Homo sapiens: one gene and its partner. The protein of the gene in region 1 purifies or fractionates together with the protein of each later gene. This does not show direct contact. Each region holds a gene or a part of one and is shown on either strand. Other genes may lie near its edges.

Region 1 (3,649 bases):
GATTTTCTGCCGGACAGGAGAAGTCACTGTAAATCCAGGACTGACCCGTCGTGGACTGACCAGGGACTCCCCCCACGGCCCCTGCAGCCCCGGCAGCCGGACATCCGCAGACTGGGGCTGGCCATGCCGCCCGGTGCAGGAGCTGGGCAGCTCCTCTGCTCGTGGCCCTCCCTTCCCTCTGGCTGGACTCCTGAGTGCTCAAGGGCACCGTGAGCTCTGGGCCCAGGCCCACAGGGCACAAGGACCCTGGTTTCCCAGGCCATACCATGCACAATGACCTCGGTGCTCTCCCGAAATCGCTGGATGCCGTTGTTGGCCTTGCACACATACGAGCCCAGGTCGTGCTGGCTGACGTTGTGGATGGTCAGGATGCTGGAGAGTTCTGTGTGGGTCTGCTGGGAGCGTCGCTCGGGCACCCACTTACCCCGCTCTGCCTGCCCGCACCCAGGGAAGCCCCGCGTCAGCAGGCGGGCTCCTGCACAGCTACCCCACCGAAGGCACACCTCCCAGCCCAGCCAGCGGTGGCTCCGGAAGCCCTGGACCCAGGCCCTGAGTTTTCTTTGGGTGGAACACTTGCCACTCAGACCGGGGCCCCTGGGGCAGGCCTGGGCCCACACATCCTCCACGCGGAGGCCCAGTGTGTGCTGTACAGTCACAGGGACTCCTGGGGACAGGACAGCCTGGCAGCGCTGCTGACCTCACCTGCTTCCCTGGGTAGTCCCAGTCAAAGGTGACACCTGAGTTAAACTCAGCCCACACGGTGCAGTTCAGGACCAGCTTCTCCCCTACCAGCAGCTCCAGCGACTTCCTGGGCAACAGCTGGATGTCATAGAGCTCGTTGCCTGTTGACACGCACACAGTGACTCCCACGCCCTCACAGGACGACACCCACTGAGGCCAGTGAGGCAGTGACAGCCCCGTTACTGGGAACGGGGCACAGCCCTGTTACCTGTGATGTGCACCAGGAAGGGGTTGGAAAGGAAGTCCTGGTCTCCCCAGGTGGTCTCGCACTGCAGGTACAGGGCATCGTGCAGCAGTGGCGTGGACACGAGCATGCCCCGCCGGTCATCCCACACCACCTCCTGCCCGTCTGGCCACAGCACCGAGCTTTGCTGGAGGGACAAGGCCACCATCATTGCCCAGCTGCCCCTTGCTCCTGGCCAGACAGGCGGCCGCCTTTCCCAGGGGTGGGATGGGAGGGTCGGATGCTGGGGTTGGGGTGGGGCCGTACCGAGCGCAGCGTGACATTGAGGCCGGGGATGGACACCAGACAGGGCACCCACATGGCGTCCTTCCTGTTGACCAAGAGCGTGTCAGGCTTGTTGATGAATGGCTGCTCAAAGTCTATGGAGAGGGAGCAAGCTGTTGGGGAAGGGACGTGGCGGCCAGGCTGGGGGAGGGCTCCACGGGGCTGGGTGGTGCTGGTCCTGAACCAGCCACCCGCTGGAGCAGGTAGGGCCCCGTTCTCTCCTCCTGCCAGCCCAGGGTCCACAGGCTGGGGGCGGTGTGGGCCCCAGCTGCCCGGGACCCTGCTCCAGCCTGGCCCGCCTCCAAGTCTCACCTCTCACGAACACGTAGGAGCTGGCGGCCGTGGTGCCCTCGATGCGTGCCTTGATGTACTTGTAGTAGCAGACGTAGCTGCCTGTGTCGTTGGCATGTACCTCGTGCAGCAGCAACACCTTGCAGTAGGGCCTGGCGTCTGTGCCCTCGCAGTCTCGCACCACCCCCGTGTCCTCGCTGTCCTTGTCTCCGGTGGCTGGCGCCTCCTGAGCTCCTGGCCAAGCCCACTCGAGGGGGTGCTGTCCCCTGGCAGAGGACAGGAGTGGTCAGGTGGGCCCCAGGGCAGCCCATGGGGACTGTCCCTGAGAAGCCTCCCTCAGGCCGAGCCTCACCAGGTTTGTCTTACCCAGAGCATGGAACTGCCCAGGGTTTGGGCGCACACTACAGACCGTGCCCAGGGCAGGGCACTCCCCGACCCCCGGGCCTCTACCAGGCTCCCGGGGCTGGCCTGTGGCCAAGCACAGGCCTTGGATCACAGCTGGGAAGGTGGGGAGGTACCCATCTCTGGGGCCCCAGTGGGTGCTCCCAGGGTGGCTGGGAGTGGATGCAGATGACCTGGGAGGTGGCCTGGGGTCAGTGTGAGGTGTCAGGAGTGGGGTGCAGGGTGATGAGGCCCCATATGAAATGCTGATGGGGTGGGCTGGGCACAGTGGCTCACGCCTGTAATCCCAGCACTTTGGGAGGCTGAGGTGGGTGGGTTACGAGGTCAGGAGATCAAGACCATCCTGCTTAACACGGTGAAACCCCGTCTCTACTACAAATACAAAAAATTAGCCGGGCGTGGTGGCGGGCACCTGTAGTCCCAGCTACTTGGGAGGCTGAGGCAGGAGAATGGCGTGAACCCGGGAGGCAGAGCTTGCAGTGAGCCGAGATCGCACCACTGCACTCCAGCCTGGGTGACAGAGTGAGACTCCATCTCAGAAAAAAAAAAAGAAATGCTGATGGGGGTGTGTGGTTGAGGCTGGGGAGGACCGAAGTCACCCACAGCCTGGGAGACCACACGGCCCCGAGGCCACTCTGCCCTGACTCTGCCCTGGGAGGGGGCTGCCATCTGGGCCCACAGCCACCACCTCCTGCCTTGGGCTTGTGCAGCCTCTCTGGCCTGCCAGTGGGAGAGGGACCCAGTACCTGCAGGAGATGGACAGGCTGTCACCGGTGTCGATGACGTGTGACTCCTCCGTGATGTTCAAGGTCGGGGGGGTCATGGAGTAGCCACTCACCAGGCCTGGGGTGGGAGACAGGGTCAGCGTGGTGCTGGGCTGTGACTTGGCACGACGTTGATGGGGCATGGCTGGGCATTCTGCATCGCAAGCGCAGACCCCTGCAGGGCCGGAGCAGCTCAGGTTCTCAGCCAGCACCGCGTGGCCTGGCCTCACCATGTGCGCCGTGAGCAGCACCAGCTCCCAGGCGCCAAGACAGCCACGAACCTCTCCCACAGGCGCACCCTGCCTTGCCCCACAGCCCCCATCCTCAGCTACACACCGGCCCTGGACCTAACCCCAACCTCTGACCCCGGTGAGCTGAGCGGCTGGCATGAAGGAGCGGGGGAGGGGCGCTGGAGTGTGTCACCTCCACATCACGGCCCCTGCAGTGCTGCTGCCTGAGGCCCTCCCTCCTGAACTGCAGCCCTACACCCGCTGCTTCCCAGAGGGTCCGCACATCCCAGGTCCTCCCCGAACCACGCAGGCCTCGCCCCCTCCTGCCTGCTCTCTGCCAGGGGCCTCGCCCCCTCCTGCCTGCTCTCTGCCAGGGGCCTCGCCCCTTCCCAGGCCACGTGGTGTCACCTCACAGGTGTCCTTTCGCTCCTCAGCTTCTCGCACCCTCACAGACCCTGCTGGCTGCCCCAGCCTCCTCCGGGCTCTCCCTGCCCAGGCCTCCCTAGACACCCCCAGGTCTTCTCACAGGGCTCTTCCTCAGACATACAAATAAACCCGCCTCATCTGGCTGAAACCCACCATCAGCCAGAGACTGTAGGCTGGCCGGGCTGGGCCTTCTGTCCTGCAGGACTCAGCCCTGCTGCCCCCACACCCTCCTCCCCGTGAGGTGGTGTGTGTGTGTGTGTGTGTGTGTGTGTGTGTGTGTGCACACG
Region 2 (3,516 bases), on another chromosome or scaffold:
ATAACACCAATTATGTTTCTGAGGATGCATTTGACATGCCAACTCTCATTCACAAAAATACATTGTTAGATTTTTGTTGAACTGCCCCACACAGCACACTAATATGGGGTGTAACACACATACTTGTAACTCCAAGCTGCTTTCAGGAGCTACTCAACTCAATGAGATTGCCTTTGCAGTTAGGGAAGCAACTACTGAACTTATGTATGAAAGAAAAGAACTGTATTCCCTGCATAACAAGAGATTATTTTGGAGACAGTTGATAAAAACCATACATCCTTTTTACTGTTAAGTCATAAAGAGGTGTCAAAATTAAAAGCAAAAATTACAGGGTAAGACTTAGGAAAACTACTAGGGGTGTCATGGGAAGTGAAAATGGGACTAGGCGCAGGGCAATATGAATTAATGAATGTGGGAAGGACAAGGATGGGGAGAACAGTAAGCATGTGCTGAAGATACTAAGGGAGAGGATCTGGTGAAAAATTTGTTGTTAGACAAGCTCCTAGGTAAAGAAACAATGGGATAAGATTTCTCAACCCCACTATGTGCTTAAGAGTCATCCTGGCCATTGGTGCTGTCTCTGTTATCCTCTCCTTCCTCAGCATCTTTTTCATTATTCTTGATCAAATGAAGCTGGTTGTCCCCCTGATCTTCATTATCATCATCATCCAGTGGGTCCCCCTCCTCAGCAGAGTCTTCTGCACCCCCCTCAGACTCCATCTTTACATGAGTCTCATCTTTCTTCATGGAGCTACTGCTCTGCTCCTCTTCTGACTTAGCATTTTTCACCTCTACCTCTTGTTTGCTCTGTTCCTTTTCAATTTTTTCCAGGTTTTCCAGGAGAGAATCCACTTTCTGTTTTATCTGGGTCAACTCCTGCTTAATGGCCTGAAGGTCATCTCCTTTCAGCTTTCCAGACTTGGAAGATCCCCGCTTTCCACTCTTAGAATTGAAGCCACTTTTGCCCCTTCGTGAGGTGTTTCCTGATATGCGCTGGCGTTTCGAGGGCACTACAGCCAGAGCAATGGGAGGAGGAGGAGGTACACGTGCTGGGAAACTGTACATCCCATCATAATAATCCCGTTGAAAGCCATAGTCCAAGTCAAAAGAGGAGCCGTACATCTCCGCTGCGGATCGTTTCACACCTGCGTTTCCTCGGTTCACTTTTGGCTCTGCAGCCAGGTTAATAACTGCAACCTGGCTAGCAATCATTCTGCCATCCTCTCCTGCTACAGCAGCCCGGGCATTTTTCTCCTTATCATATTGAACGAAGGCAAAGCCCTTATGAACAGAGCAGCCCGCAATTTTGCCATACTTGGAAAAGATCGCCTCCACATCAGATTTCTTGACAACAAGAGTGTTGAGATTCCCAATGAACACACGGGAGTTCACGGAGTGAGGATCCATCTTGTTGGTAACGTTGCTGGCCATTGTGTTGGATGATAAGGTTTCTCAAAAAGCCAAAAACAGGAGGCGGGAGGGAGAAGAGATTCGATTCTAAGTCTCCTACTGCCGGGTTCTACGGGGAGAAACTGACTGCGGCTCGAGGCCAGAAATGCAGCCAAAACAGCTCAGTCTTCGTCTCTTCACAAAATGGCTGCCAACAAGAATTCTGAAATGATGTAAAGAAAAGCACAACAACATTTTTGAAATCACGACAAAATTGCATTTAGAAAAAAAAATCAAAGCTTCAAAGTGTTCATATGAAAAAAAGAAAAAAAGACATGATATAGTTCTATGCCATCGTAGGCTGCACTGTCACCGTTCTAGACCGGCTGACTGTAGGTCACATGGGAGTGTCCTTACAGAAATTAGTGACTTACCAGATCTGGTTGTAGTTTAGAAGGTGCTCAGACCTCAGGAAGAGCCAAGCAGGAACTCCAGGCTTGAAGACTTTGAGTTTGTCCTGTGGGTCTTTAGAAGCTTTTATTGACCTTTCTAATCACAACTCCCACCCACGCCCCTCCACGTATCCGCTGCTAGCTTCCAATCAAAAAGCGATATCTGATTGCATTTCTGAAGCTCCACTCAGTTAATCCTGATTGGGTTTTTGACTGTCCGAAGACTAATGGATTGAACGAGATATCCATTCATATCACATATGCATAATCATTTTATGAATTAAGAAATTGACAGAGTTAGGGATAGAGTGGAAATCAAGAATTCATTCACTCAAGGCCAGGTGAGGTGGCTCACACTTGTAATCCCAGCACTTTGGGAGGCCAAGGTAGGTGGATCACCTGAGGTCAGGAGTTCAAGACCAGCCTGGCCCACATGGTGAAACCCTGTCTCTACAAAAATAGAAAAGTTAGCCAGGCACGATGGTGGCTGCCTGTAGTCCAGTTACTCATGCGGCTGAGGTGGGAGAATCCCTTGAACCCTGGAGGCTGAGTTTGCAGTGAGCCAAGATTACACCATTGCCCTCCTGACTGGGCGACAGAGGGAGATTTTGTCAAAAAAAATGCATTCATTCATGAAATCCACAAACACTGATGGAATTTTACTGCTATTTCGCCTTCAAGTCCTGATGTGAGGCAGGGAAGGGGTTGATCTGTTCCAGACATTAGACAGAAAAATAAAACCTGAAAGTAGTGTTGTGGGGAGATCTTTGGCCACATCAAAATTATAAAATTTATAAAAATATTTCTAGTTAAAATAGCTGTATAAACACAGAGGAGTCGTCCCTACAAAATAAGAATAAAGATCTCCATGTATGGAATGGTCTTGTGGGTTTTATATCACCTAAGGTAGCAGTTTCTTCACTCGTGCTGGTGGAAGAGAGGTGCCACTGAGGGCTTGAGTGGTCTCAGGGCTTAGGTTAAGTCTTCTCTGGAAGAAATTGAAATGATACCTGTAAACTTTATAAGTTTAATCAGTGAAGAAGGGAGGGGGAGAAACAAAAATAAACCAAGCTTGCAGCGCATTCAGCATTCACCATGAGGTCAGCTTGCTCTCTGACCTTCTTCCTCATGGTTGCTGGCAGCTTACTGTCCCCAAATCAAGTAGACCTTAGCTTACAGTTCCCCTTAACTACCCTGCAGACAACAATTTAAGCCTTGTAAAACATTAACTTTCTCATTTGAGATATTCTTTCAGGTTCTGCATGTCAGTGAAACTACTGATGCCAGCTGATCTGAAGGGCTCTGCAAGGCACCAACTCACCAAAGAATGCAGTTTTGACATCCTGATGACTTCATCCCTCTTACCTCTACACCAACTTTCCAGCCCCTTGCTATCCAGGATCCACTGGAAACCCTCAGTACTACTTGGGGAGATGAATTTGAGGATATCCTCCTAGCTTCTCATTTAGCCACCCTGTGATCATTAAACTGTCTGCTGCAAACACTGCTGTCTCAGAATATTGGTCAGCTACTGTGCAGCAGGCATAGGAACCTGATGGTCCTGTAATAAAATCATGTCAAAATTACAAAGAGAAGTGAGGGTAGAGGATGGGCATGGTTGAGCTGGGTGTTTTAATGGGATCCTGGGAGTTAACCAAGACTTGGTAAACATGTT

Evidence for each region. The genes of interacting proteins can lie anywhere in the genome.
Region 2: the proteins of FLT4 (region 1) and HNRNPCL2 purify together in Homo sapiens (affinity purification with mass spectrometry; one large-scale study listed by BioGRID and IntAct). This does not show direct contact.

The regions. Positions count from the first base shown.
Region 1 is NC_000005.10:180,628,994-180,632,642, forward strand, and holds part of FLT4 (vascular endothelial growth factor receptor 3 isoform 1 precursor), read right to left. Parts: intron 2,882-3,649; coding exon of another isoform or gene 2,786-2,881; coding exon 2,689-2,785; intron 1,807-2,688; coding exon 1,562-1,806; intron 1,345-1,561; coding exon 1,232-1,344; intron 1,113-1,231; coding exon 950-1,112; intron 843-949; coding exon 703-842; intron 435-702; coding exon 266-434; intron 7-265; coding exon 1-6. UniProt on the Homo sapiens protein: Tyrosine-protein kinase that acts as a cell-surface receptor for VEGFC and VEGFD, and plays an essential role in adult lymphangiogenesis and in the development of the vascular network and the cardiovascular system during embryonic development.
Region 2 is NC_000001.11:13,114,970-13,118,485, forward strand, and holds HNRNPCL2 (heterogeneous nuclear ribonucleoprotein C-like 2), read right to left. Parts: upstream 1,886-3,516; 5' UTR 1,824-1,885; intron 1,613-1,823; 5' UTR 1,432-1,612; coding exon 550-1,431; 3' UTR 519-549; downstream 1-518.